Regions from separate parts of the Homo sapiens genome. Here region 1 is linked to region 2. Evidence: fine-mapped expression QTL. A gene starts in region 2. The other region holds a variant in brackets. All regions are shown on one strand. Distances are from middle to middle.

Region 1 (5,382 bases), 51 kb before region 2:
CAGCACTTTGGGAGGCCAAGGCAGGCGGCTGGGAGGTGGAGGTTGTAGCGAGCCGAGATCACGCCACTGCACTCCAGCCTGGGCAACATTGAGCACTGAGTGAACGAGACTCCGTCTGCAATCCCGGCACCTCCAGAGGCCGAGGCTGGCAGATCACTCGCGGTTAGGAGCTGGAGACCAGCCCGGCCAACAGAGTGAAACCCCGTCTCCACCAAAAAAATACGAAAACCAGTCAGGCGTGGTGGCACGTGCCTGCAATCCCAGGCACTCGGCAGGCTGAGGCAGGAGAATCAGGCAGGGAGGTTGCAGTGAGCCGAGATGGCGGCAGTACAGTCCAGGTTCGGCTTGGCATCAGAGGGAGACCATGGAGAGAGGGGGAGGGGGAAGGGGGGAGCGGGAGGGGGAAGGGGGAGGGGGAGAGGGAAGGGGGAGAGGGAGAGGGAGAGGGAGAGCTCACATTTGTTTTTCTACCACTTTCTTTCTCTTCACCTGGGAGTCCCATTACATGCATGCTTTGGAACACTTGACACTGACCCACAGATCTCAGAAGTTCTGTTTTTTCTCCAAACTTTTTTCTCTGTTCTTTGGACTGGACAATTTCTGTTAATCTTTCAAATCCCCCAACTCTTTCTTCTATCATCTCAGATCTGCTTTTGAGCCCATGTGAAGAAAGTTCATTTCAATTATACTTTTCAACTCTGGAGTTTCCATTTGTTTTTTTGTTTGTTTGTTTGTTTTGAGATGGAGTTTCGCTCTGTTGCCCAGGCTGGAGTGCCGTGGCAGTATCTCAACTTACTGCGGCCTCCGCCTCCTGGGTTCAAGTGATTCTCCTATCTCAGCCTCCTGAGTAGCTGAGACCATGGGCACATACCACCACACCCAGCTAATTTTATTTATTTATTTATTTATTTATTTATTTATTTATTTTGTATTTTTAGTAGAGACAGGGTTTCACCATGTTGTCCAGGCTGGTCTTGAACTCTTGACCTCAAGTGATCTGCCCACCTCAGCCTCCCAAAATGGTGGCATTACAGGCATGAGCCACCACGCCTGGCCGCCATTTGGTTCTTTATTACAGTTTCTATTTATTGAGATTCCTATGTAACTCACTGTTAGTATTTCTTTGAAAACCCTTTCCTTCAATTCTCTCAACATACTTGTAATAAATATTTTGATGTTATTGCTAAATCTAATATCTAGACCCACTAAGAGTCCATTTCTACTATTTTTTCCCCTTGTATGGGTCACACTTTTCTGTTTCATTGTACATCTAGTAATTTGTGGTTGAAAACTCTATATTTTGATAATACATTGTAGCAAGACCATATTCTGTTTAACTTTTCTGAGGGTTGTTAGCTTTTTCAATTTGTTTGTATTTCATAACTTGCCTGGACTTACACTGAGGAAACTGTCTCCTCAACAGTGTGCAGCCTCTGATATCTCTATTCCATTGCTTTATTCTTATTTTCAATGTTTTAGCCTGGCTCTCTAGCAGCTACCTCTTGTCTGTATAGTTTGCAGGTAAACCAATAATTTGAGCACAGATCATGCCCAAACACCTGAGCCTATAAGGTTTTCCTTTCACTTTCTGCTAAATGATCTGTGTGTGGGTTGGGGAATGCATTCAAAATTGCAACTGGCACTCCAGTTTGAGCTCTGCTGGGTCTCTCCTGCATATATGTAGTTTTCCTGTCATCTACGGATGTGTAGAGAGGGTATCTGTCTTTCTATGGCTGTAATACAAGATCTCCTTGTTAAATTTTTGACTAATCCATCACTTGCCTCGAATTGGGACTGCAACCTTGGTCTAACAAAGGTACAGGTTTTACCCATCTGTTCCCAACAGAATCTGTTCCTTTTGCTTGGCAAAGGCAAAAGTTTTTGTACCTTCCCTCCCCCGCCAACAAAGAATTAAACCTGCTCATCTGGCAACAGAGGTGGTATTTTCATGGCCAGCCTAGACTAGAAAGCTCAGTTATCACCAACATAGATTAGAGAGAAGAGGGGAGGTGACAGAAACAGCTACAGGAAGAGGAGCCAGAAATGGTTGTTTTTTGACAGTTCTGTCCAGTTTAATGCCTTTTAAAAAAATTCCCCTTTAGCAAAGAGGAATCACTAACCACTTCACACTGCCATTACAAGAAGTCCTCTTAACATTCACTTTTGGAAGAATGAAAACACTTTACAGGTCCTTAGGGCTAGTCTAAAATGCTGGTTTCTCAAAACTGTCAGGTTCTTTTACATGTATCTCTATTACCAGGAAAAAAATACATTAAAGTCACAAAAATAAGGCTGGGCACGGTGGCTCGTGCCTGTAATCCTAGCACTTTGGGAGGCCATGGTGGGCAGAGTGCCTGAGCTCAGGAGTTCAAGACCAGCCTGGGCAACACATTGAAACCCCATCTCTACTAAAATACTAAAAATTAGCCAGGCTTGGTGGCATATGCCTGTAATCCCATCTACTCGGGAGGCTGAGGCAGGAGAACTGCTTGAACCCAGGAGGCAGAGGTTGCAGTGAGCCAAGATTTCGCCACTGCACTCCAGCCTGGCAATACAGCGAGACTCCGTCTCAAAAAAAAAAAAAAAAAAAATCACAAAAATGATTTTTTTTTTTTTTTT[TC/C]AGACGGAGTCTCGCACTGTCGCCCAGTCTGGTGTGCGATCTTGACTTGCTGCAACCTCTGCCTACCGGGTTCAGGCAATTCTCCTGCCTCAACCTCCCAAGTAGCTGGGACTACAGGTGTGCGCCACCACGCCCGGCTAATTTTTGTTATTTTTAGTAGAGACGAGGTTTCACTATGTTGGCCAGGCTGGTCTCGAAATCCTGACCTCGTGATCCGCCCGCCTTGGCATCCCATAGTGCTGGGATTACAGGCATGAGCCACCGTGCCCAGACAAAAATGAATATTTCTTAAAAGCCATAATAATTATTCAACTACACAGTTTTCACAAGATTATTTGTGGACTGTTCCTTTGTGGTGACCAATAAAGCATGACTAAAGCTAAAGACCCAAAGACAACGCTCAACAAAGGCAGAGCCATGGGGACAAAATGTGTCCTCCCTTAAACCTAGCTGTGCTTTCAGTGTATTGTTCCACTCTCAGTAGAGCCTCTCCAGGCATCTACAGCTTTCATGCTGTTACTTTCTGTATTAGTTCATATTGCTGCTGTAATAAATTACTACAAATTTGGTGACTTAAAAAAACACAGATTGATCATCTTATAGTTCTGCAGGTCAGAAGTCTGAAACAGGTCTCACAAGGCTAAATTCAAGGTAGCTGCAAGGCTGTGTCCCTTCGGGATGCTCTAGCGCAGAACCCATTCCAGTTTCTAGAGGCTTACCCTCATTACTTGGCTCATGGCCCTCTTCTTCCATCTTAAAAACCTACATTACTGGGACCAAGTTCTTCTCATACCGCTATGACACTAACTCTCCTCTGTCTCCCTCTTCCACTTTTAAGAACTCCTGTGATTATACTGGGTCCACCCAGATAATCCAGGATAAATCTCCCTACCTTAAAGTCTATTGCTAAGCAATGTTAATGTTAATGCTCCCTTAATTCCTCTTGCCACATAACTTATATCCACAGGTTCTAAGATTTAGGTTGTGGACCATCTCTGGGGGCTAGCAGGGTTCATTATCTTGCCTACCACACCTTGCTATTAAAATCTCTGCTCATGAATTTCCATTTGGACATAAATGTTTGCTACGGTTAAAGTCTGTGTCATTTCCAGGGCTATTTATATTATCATGAAGCATAACAATCAAGAGAATAAATCTGTAATGATGGTTTCAGGAAACACCCACTAGAAGATATTTAAAGAAAATAAAAAAAGAAAAGTATTTAAAGGATAGGTATATCAGAAGGCTGAAATACATCCAGCAAAACACATCATTAAGATCAATTACATTGCCAAGAACATAAAATTGATCATGCCCACATATCTTTTAAAGTCCACTTTTATAAAAGTCCCTTAACAAAGTTAAACAGGCTTGGAGCTAATCTGAGAGGTGCTTGATATGAAAACTGAAACGAGAAGATCTTAAAATAGATAAAGATTAATAGACAAACTCGAACTACCAAAATTGAGCATTGGACATAAATCCCAAAAATCTATTTTCTAGAATTTGATTTGAAAATATAAGTTAATCATATAGTAATTTTAAATCACTCTGACAGGGTCAACCTATACTAATTGTATATTTATGGTATAAATAAGTACAGATGCATATATTGCAAAATCGTTTTCAAATTTTCATTGTCATTGCTTTAATTCTGGTTTAACTTTTTAAAATTCAAATTTAAATAAATGTTTAGGTGAAAACTTCTGTGTATGTTATTCTTCAGTATCTCTGAAGCATTACAAGTAATCTGTATCCTTGAAATTTTTGAGAAATGTATTTATTAACAATTACAATAAAAATTATATGAATAAAACAGAAGGAGAATATTATGAAATCCTCTTAAGATGTCTGGTTCACATTAGTCTTAAAATACCCACATACCAAAGTCCTTCTCATCTTTTCCCATTCCCAACCCTCTACTGCTATACCCAACCTTACCAAACTACCTACAAGTTTCAAAAGTGCATTTAAACATCATCACCTCTACTAATTCTGCCTCAAGTATCTTTTTACCTAACTTATTAATTAAGCTTATTCACCTGGTTTATTCTCACTTGTCTTTCAGGATTCATGTGAGGTATCACCTTGTCTGGAAACATTTTCCTGACTTAATCTGTCTGAATTACAGGTACCTCCTATGAGTTTCCATCAAACTTGTGTTCTGCCTCCTATGAGAGCATTTATCACAAAATGTTATTGTTGTCTACTCCCTTATCTATTAATCCCATAGATTACTAAGGCAGTAACCATGTTTTATTCTTGATATTTCTGTATCTGGATCACAGTAAATGTTTAAAAATTATATTTGTTGAATAAAAGAAAATACACATACATTTAATATGCTTAACTTTTAAACAGTTCTCAAAAGCTTTGTTGTTGGCTTCCTAAACTTTAAGAAAGGTCAAGTAAGACAAAACTGAAAGTGACTTCCAACCATACGGCAAACTAACATGACACAGGCCCTCCTTGTCCCAAAACACACAGAAATACCTGATCAAATATGACAATGCTGTCAAAATACACCGCTGAATTTGAAATAATAAAAAGGAGATTCCTGGGTAACAGAAACAAAGAGTATACTGAAAGGCAAAAGCGAGCATAGAAGGTGACTGAAAAATACCAGGGGATGATCAGCTTTGGCTATAGGCCCTAACAGCTGGGCACTGGGAGCTGGGATTTTATAGGGTAAGCCTTTTACTGCTGAAAGTCTGTTAGTTTGACTTATAAAACTGTTTGCAAAACTGACTATGCTGTGCTAG
Region 2 (5,382 bases):
ATCAAGTTAAGTCTCCCACCATTATTCTACATCATGTCCTAAAACCACTTTCATCATATCACCTGGCCACTCTAAAACGAAGGGTCTCTCACTATTGTCTTAAGCAGTGGTTCTTTCTAAGTGTGGTCTCCTGACCAGCAGCATCTGAATTACCTGAGACCGTGTTACACAAGCAAAATTTTCAGTCCCACCTCAGACCTACAGAATCAGAAACTCTGAGGATGGGGCCCAGCAATCTAAGACTCTGATGTACATTAAAGTATGAGAATCACTGGTCATAGGAATACTGAATCTGGATTCCTGTATTTAGTTTGGGAAGATGTCCATAACCCAATCCCGTCTTCCTTGTTAACCTTATTTATTTCCCTTCAATAGACAGTCTTCACTCTAGTGAAGATATATTTCTTCATTCAGTCCCTTCAAAGATTCATTCTCACCTATGTCTCTACCCATGTCAGTCCATTCTCATGTTTAACCAACCACTTCCCACTTTCAAGGCCCAGCTCATTTCCTATCTTTTCTATGAAAATATCTCCAACTATTGTAGTCCACAATATCACCCCTATTTAAATAATAATTATTTTAATTATTATTTTTACAGGTAGTACCAACTGGCTTACATTTTAACTATTTGCTGTTTGTTGTTTTTTAAAAATATATGGGTCAAGTTTCTGCTTTTCCCTTTGTATATAGCTCTGGACACCCAGTACCTACTCAATGAAGTCTTGCCAGTGTGGTTATGTCTTACTGACACTTTTATGAAGGGTACCACAGGTCTAACTATTATTCCAACAAGGACCTTTTATATTTTCCTGTGCCACCTAATGACACGACATCCACAAATTTCCTCTCCCAACCAGAAAGATTATAAAATGCTGTAACAGCGTAAACACTGACTTCAACACCCAGGAAACTGAAGGGTTTCTGTGACACTTAACAGAAACCTTCTCGATCTAAGCTATCACTCCTCCACAAACTTGGCTTTCAACTAATTTCAGTAATAGAACAGTTTCACCCAGACAGCTGTTCATCTGAATTTGACAGGCACAGGAAGCCTGGGCACAGTACCCACTTTAATGTAACAACTTAAATCAAAGCATTCCAAAACCATATGCAGACTTTTTAAAAAGGTTATTCTAAAAGACAGGATGGGCGGAGGCTCACGCCTGTAATCTCAGCACTTTGGGCGGCCCAGGCTTGAGCCCAGGAGTTCAAGACTAGCCTGGGCAACACAGCGAGATCTTTAAAAAATTAGTTGGGCGTAATAGCGCGTGCCTGTGGTCCCAGCTCCTCCCGAGGCTAAAGCGGGAGCTTCACTTGAGCCTAGGAGTTCGAGGCCGCAGTAAGCTATGACCTCGCCACTGCACTCCGGCCTGGGCGGACAGACTGAGACTCTGTCTCCAAAAATAAATAAAAATAAAAAATTAAAGACAGCATGGAGATGGTGGGAGTGTGACAGATGGACAACTACCAATACTCTGAAGAAAGACTTCCTCCTGAAAAGGGTATACCAACGTACACGGGATGAGGTGCGGCACAACCTACCAAGTTTACTGCTTACGATAATGAGTTAAACGGTAATGAAAACCGGAACGGTTGTTGCAGCCTCGGAAATTTTTCTTGCGAGTGGGTAACAACCAGAAAACCAAAGTCTAAGGGAAGCGGTCTGACAGGAGAGAAAACAAAACTTTCTGAGAGCCTGAGCCTCAGGGATTGGCTGACGGGGGCGGGCCGGGTGTTGCCAGACGCGAGACGCGGAAGAGGCTTGCGGTTGACCAAAGAAGACTGGGGGAGGAGACCCGGGACCCACGGTATTACCGTTCCCGCACAAGTGGCGTCACTTGTGGTGTGTCTGGGGTCAGGGAAGCGGCTAGGGGACGCCAGGGCCCATGGGAGCTGGTAACCAAAAATGCGATTCACTCACCTTTCCCATTCCGAGGCAGTGGTGAAGTCCGTGATCTCAAATACCTCGGATTCGGGCTGCGGGAAGGGGAAGGAGAGAAAAAGAAATTAAGCCCCAAGGCGAAGACATGAGGAACGAATTTAGATAGTGACAAGGATTAAGTAGGGAGCAAAGAAATCACCTCACTGTCGGCAGCCATCTTGAGGAGCGCCGGGCCTGGCGCTAAGGCTGCCGGGAAGAAGAGCGAAAGAGAACGGGGCGCGTCCCCGCCCCCGGAGCCCCCGCCCCCTGTTCATGAGTCTTGCCCTAGTAAGTAGGAGTGCTGCTTCTTCGCCCAGGTCTGTTAAGTCTTTAGTCCGCCCTCAGCTGGTTAATAAAACTCCGCTCTAGCTGGTTTCATAAAACTTGAAAATTTCCTGTGATGAATACAGAAAGGGAACAGAAGCCAAGGTGATAGGACAAGACCCTAAACTCATGTGGATAAGATTGTATTAAAAAACCTAAAGCATGTTGGGTTTGTTTTCATTCAACCCATATTTGTAGTTAGTACCAATTAGCTTACACTTTAACTATTGGGTTTCTTTTCATTCACCCTCTATTTATTGATTGTAAGGCAATAAACTAGGTGCTGTAATACCACTTCTACCCTCTGCCCCTGACCCTGCAAGAAGTTGCTCAGTTGATTGTCCTGAAATAAAATCATACTAGTTACCTGGTTTCTGGGAAGAGCAACATGGTGTTCAACAAACGCTTCATTTTTTTTTTTTTTTTTTTTTTTTTTTTTTTTTTTTTGAGACGGAGTCTTGCTCTGTCGCCCAGGCTGGAGTGCAGTGGCACGATCTTGGCTCACTGCAAGCTCCGCCTCCCGGGTTCACGCCATTCTCCTGCCTCAGCCTCCCGAGTAGCCGGGACCACAGGCGCTCGCCACCACGCCCGGCTAATTTTTTGTATTTTTAGTAGAGATGAGGTTTCATCGTGTTAGCCAGGATGGTCTCGATCTCCTGACCTCATGATCTGCCCACCTCGGTTCTGTCGCCAGGCTGGAGTGCAGTGGCGCGATTTCGGCTCACTGCAATCTCTGCCTCCTGGGTTCAAGTGATTCTCATGCCTCAGCCTCCCGAGTAGCTGGGATTACAGGCATGCGCCACAACACCCAGCTAATTTTTGTATTTTTGGTAGAGATGGGGTTTCACCATGTTGGCCAGGATGGTCCCGATCTCCTGACCTTGTGATCCGCCCCCCTCGGCCTCCCAAAGTGCTGGGATTACAGGTGTGAGCCACTGTGCCTGGCCTTGTCTTTATTTTAACACCTTCAAGTTATTTATATATATTCTGCATCTGAGCTTTATATTGTTTATATATGTAGCAAATACCTTCTCCCACTCTGCAGCTTGCTTTTTCACTATTTTTTTTTCAGACTGGTGCTCTAAAAAAGCAGACACTACAATTCCAAGCTGGCGAAGTCTCTGAAGTCCAACTGGAAGTGCTAGGGCAAAAATTATGCATCAGGAAATGCGTAGCCCCTTGTACTACTGCCTTGCTCCGTCAATCATTGGCCAGGATCTCCCCAAGAAAACAGTGGCCTTGGCTATCACTGTTTGCTCAGTTTTTGGCTGGAGGAAGCACTCCAAGAATAGCAGGTCCTTGGCTCAACAGTTAGACAAACCTGATAAACCCAACAGCCGTAGGCTGTTCATCTAACCACACGCCTTACAGCTGGGCAGTGAGTCTTTCTTTAAGGGAGGTCTGAGCAGCACATCTTTTGTGTCTGCCACTCTCTTTTAATAGACAGCCTCTTTTAACATGCACCTACAATGTTTTCGACATCCTGTGCTTTCTCTTTCCTCTGGACATGCTGTCGTTTAGAATCTGCAATGTCCTTGTGTCTATAGTTTACCTGGTAAAATTTGTCCTTCAAGTTTCAGCTTGGATATTTGCTCTTCTGTGAAGACTTTCTCTGCCCCCTGTTAGGAGCTTATTTGTATTTGCAACCAGTTTGGTGGTAATCGATTGGATTCTCACTCAAAATTCATATGTTGAAGCCCTAACTCCTAGTACCTCAAAATGTGACTGTATTTATGGACAGGGTGTTTAAAGAGGTGATTAAGTTAAAATTAGGCCGCTAGAGTGGGCCCTAATCCAATCTGACTAGTGTCCTTATGAGAAGAGATTAGGACACCAGGGATGTGCACACACAGAGGAAAGGCCATGTGGGGACACAGAGAGTAGGTGGCCACCTGCAAACCAAGGAGAGAGGCCTCAGGAGAAACCCAACCTGCTGATACCTTGGTCGTGGGCTTCTAGTCTTCAGAGCTGTGAGCAAATAAAAAAATATTTTTTTGAGATGGAGTCTTGCTCTGTCACCCAGGCTGGAATGCAGTGGTGAGATCTTGGCTCACTGCAACGTTCACCTGCCAGATTCAAGCAATTTTCCAGCCTCAGCCTTCTGAGTAGCTGGGATTACAGGCATGTGCCACCACATCCAGCTAATTTTTGTATTTTTAGTAGAGACAGCATTTCACCTTATTGGCCAGACTGGTCTCAAACTCCTGACCTCAGGTGATCAACCCTCCTCGGCCTCCCAGAGTGCTGGGATTACAGGTGTGAACCACGGCGCCCAGCCCTGTGAGCAAATAAATTTTTGTTGTTTAAGCCTTCCAGTCTGTGGCATTTTGTTCAAGCAGCCCTAGGCAAACATACATCCCCCACCCTCAACCCAGGAAGTCAGACACTCCCCTTCCATGCTTCCTTAGAGCTTTTGACACAGCCCTAGGGCAGCCTGATATTGTCCTTGTTTTGTATGCCTATCCCTCCACTATTTCTAAACATTGAGTTTCTTGAAAAAGAGAATGGTTTGAATGACTCTATCTCAAAATGAGAGACAAAAGGAGGATTCCTTTTTTGTTTAAAGACAGGATGTCTTTCTGTTTCCCAGGCTGGAGTGAAGTGGCATGATCATAGCTCACTGCAGCCTCAAACTCTTGGACTCAACCAATCCTCCTGCCTCAGACTCCTGAGTAGCTGAAACTACAGGTGCCCACCACCACGTCCAGCAATTTTTTCTATTTTTTGCAGAGACATGGTCTCACTATGTTGCTCAGGCTGGTCTCAAACAACTAAGCTCAAGCAATCCTCCTACCTTGGCCTCCCAAAGTGCTGGGATTACAGGCGTGAGCCACTGCGCATAGCCAGAAGATTACATTTTTTGGGGGGGGTGGGAACGGAGTCTTGCTCACTCTGTCACCCAGGCTGGAGTGCAGTGGCACAATCCCGACTCACTGTAACCTCCGCCTCCTGGGTTCAAAGCAATTCTGCCTCAGCCTCCCGAGTAGCTGGGATTACAGGCACTAGCCACCACACCCGGCTAATTTTTTTTTTTGAGATGGAGTCTTGCTCAGTCGCCCAGGCTGGAGTGCAGTGGTGCGATCTCGGCTCACTGCAAGCTCCGCCTCCCAGGTTCACGCCATTATCCTGACTCA

Which allele goes with the higher level. Positions count from the first base shown, and alleles are read on the strand shown. Sizes are in standard deviations (SD) of each study's normalised expression.
For the expression in monocytes of the gene that starts at base 2,118 in region 2, allele TC in region 1 goes with a higher level than allele C (large effect, 0.84 SD a copy in Quach 2016).

What was found. PIP is the estimated chance that this variant, and not a neighbour inherited with it, causes the effect. A credible set is the group of variants that fine-mapping cannot tell apart.
Region 1: its variant is the best candidate, but not a certain one, in a credible set for the expression of RAB3GAP1 in monocytes (Quach 2016, PIP 0.79).

What each region holds. Positions count from the first base shown.
Region 1 is chr2:135,100,245-135,105,626 of GRCh38, reverse strand. The region is part of intron 5 of RAB3GAP1 (RAB3 GTPase activating protein catalytic subunit 1); the gene reads right to left. Among named protein-coding and RNA genes, the nearest start is that of SNORA40B, 34 kb to the left of the region's middle. The variant TC/C (reference allele first, on the strand shown) is at 2,620.
Region 2 is chr2:135,049,028-135,054,409 of GRCh38, reverse strand. It overlaps RAB3GAP1 (RAB3 GTPase activating protein catalytic subunit 1), which reads right to left and starts at 2,118. Exons shown (of 24, transcript NM_012233.3): 1 at 2,085-2,118; 2 at 1,925-1,980. The coding sequence starts at 2,102. RefSeq lists an enhancer at 1,406-1,545.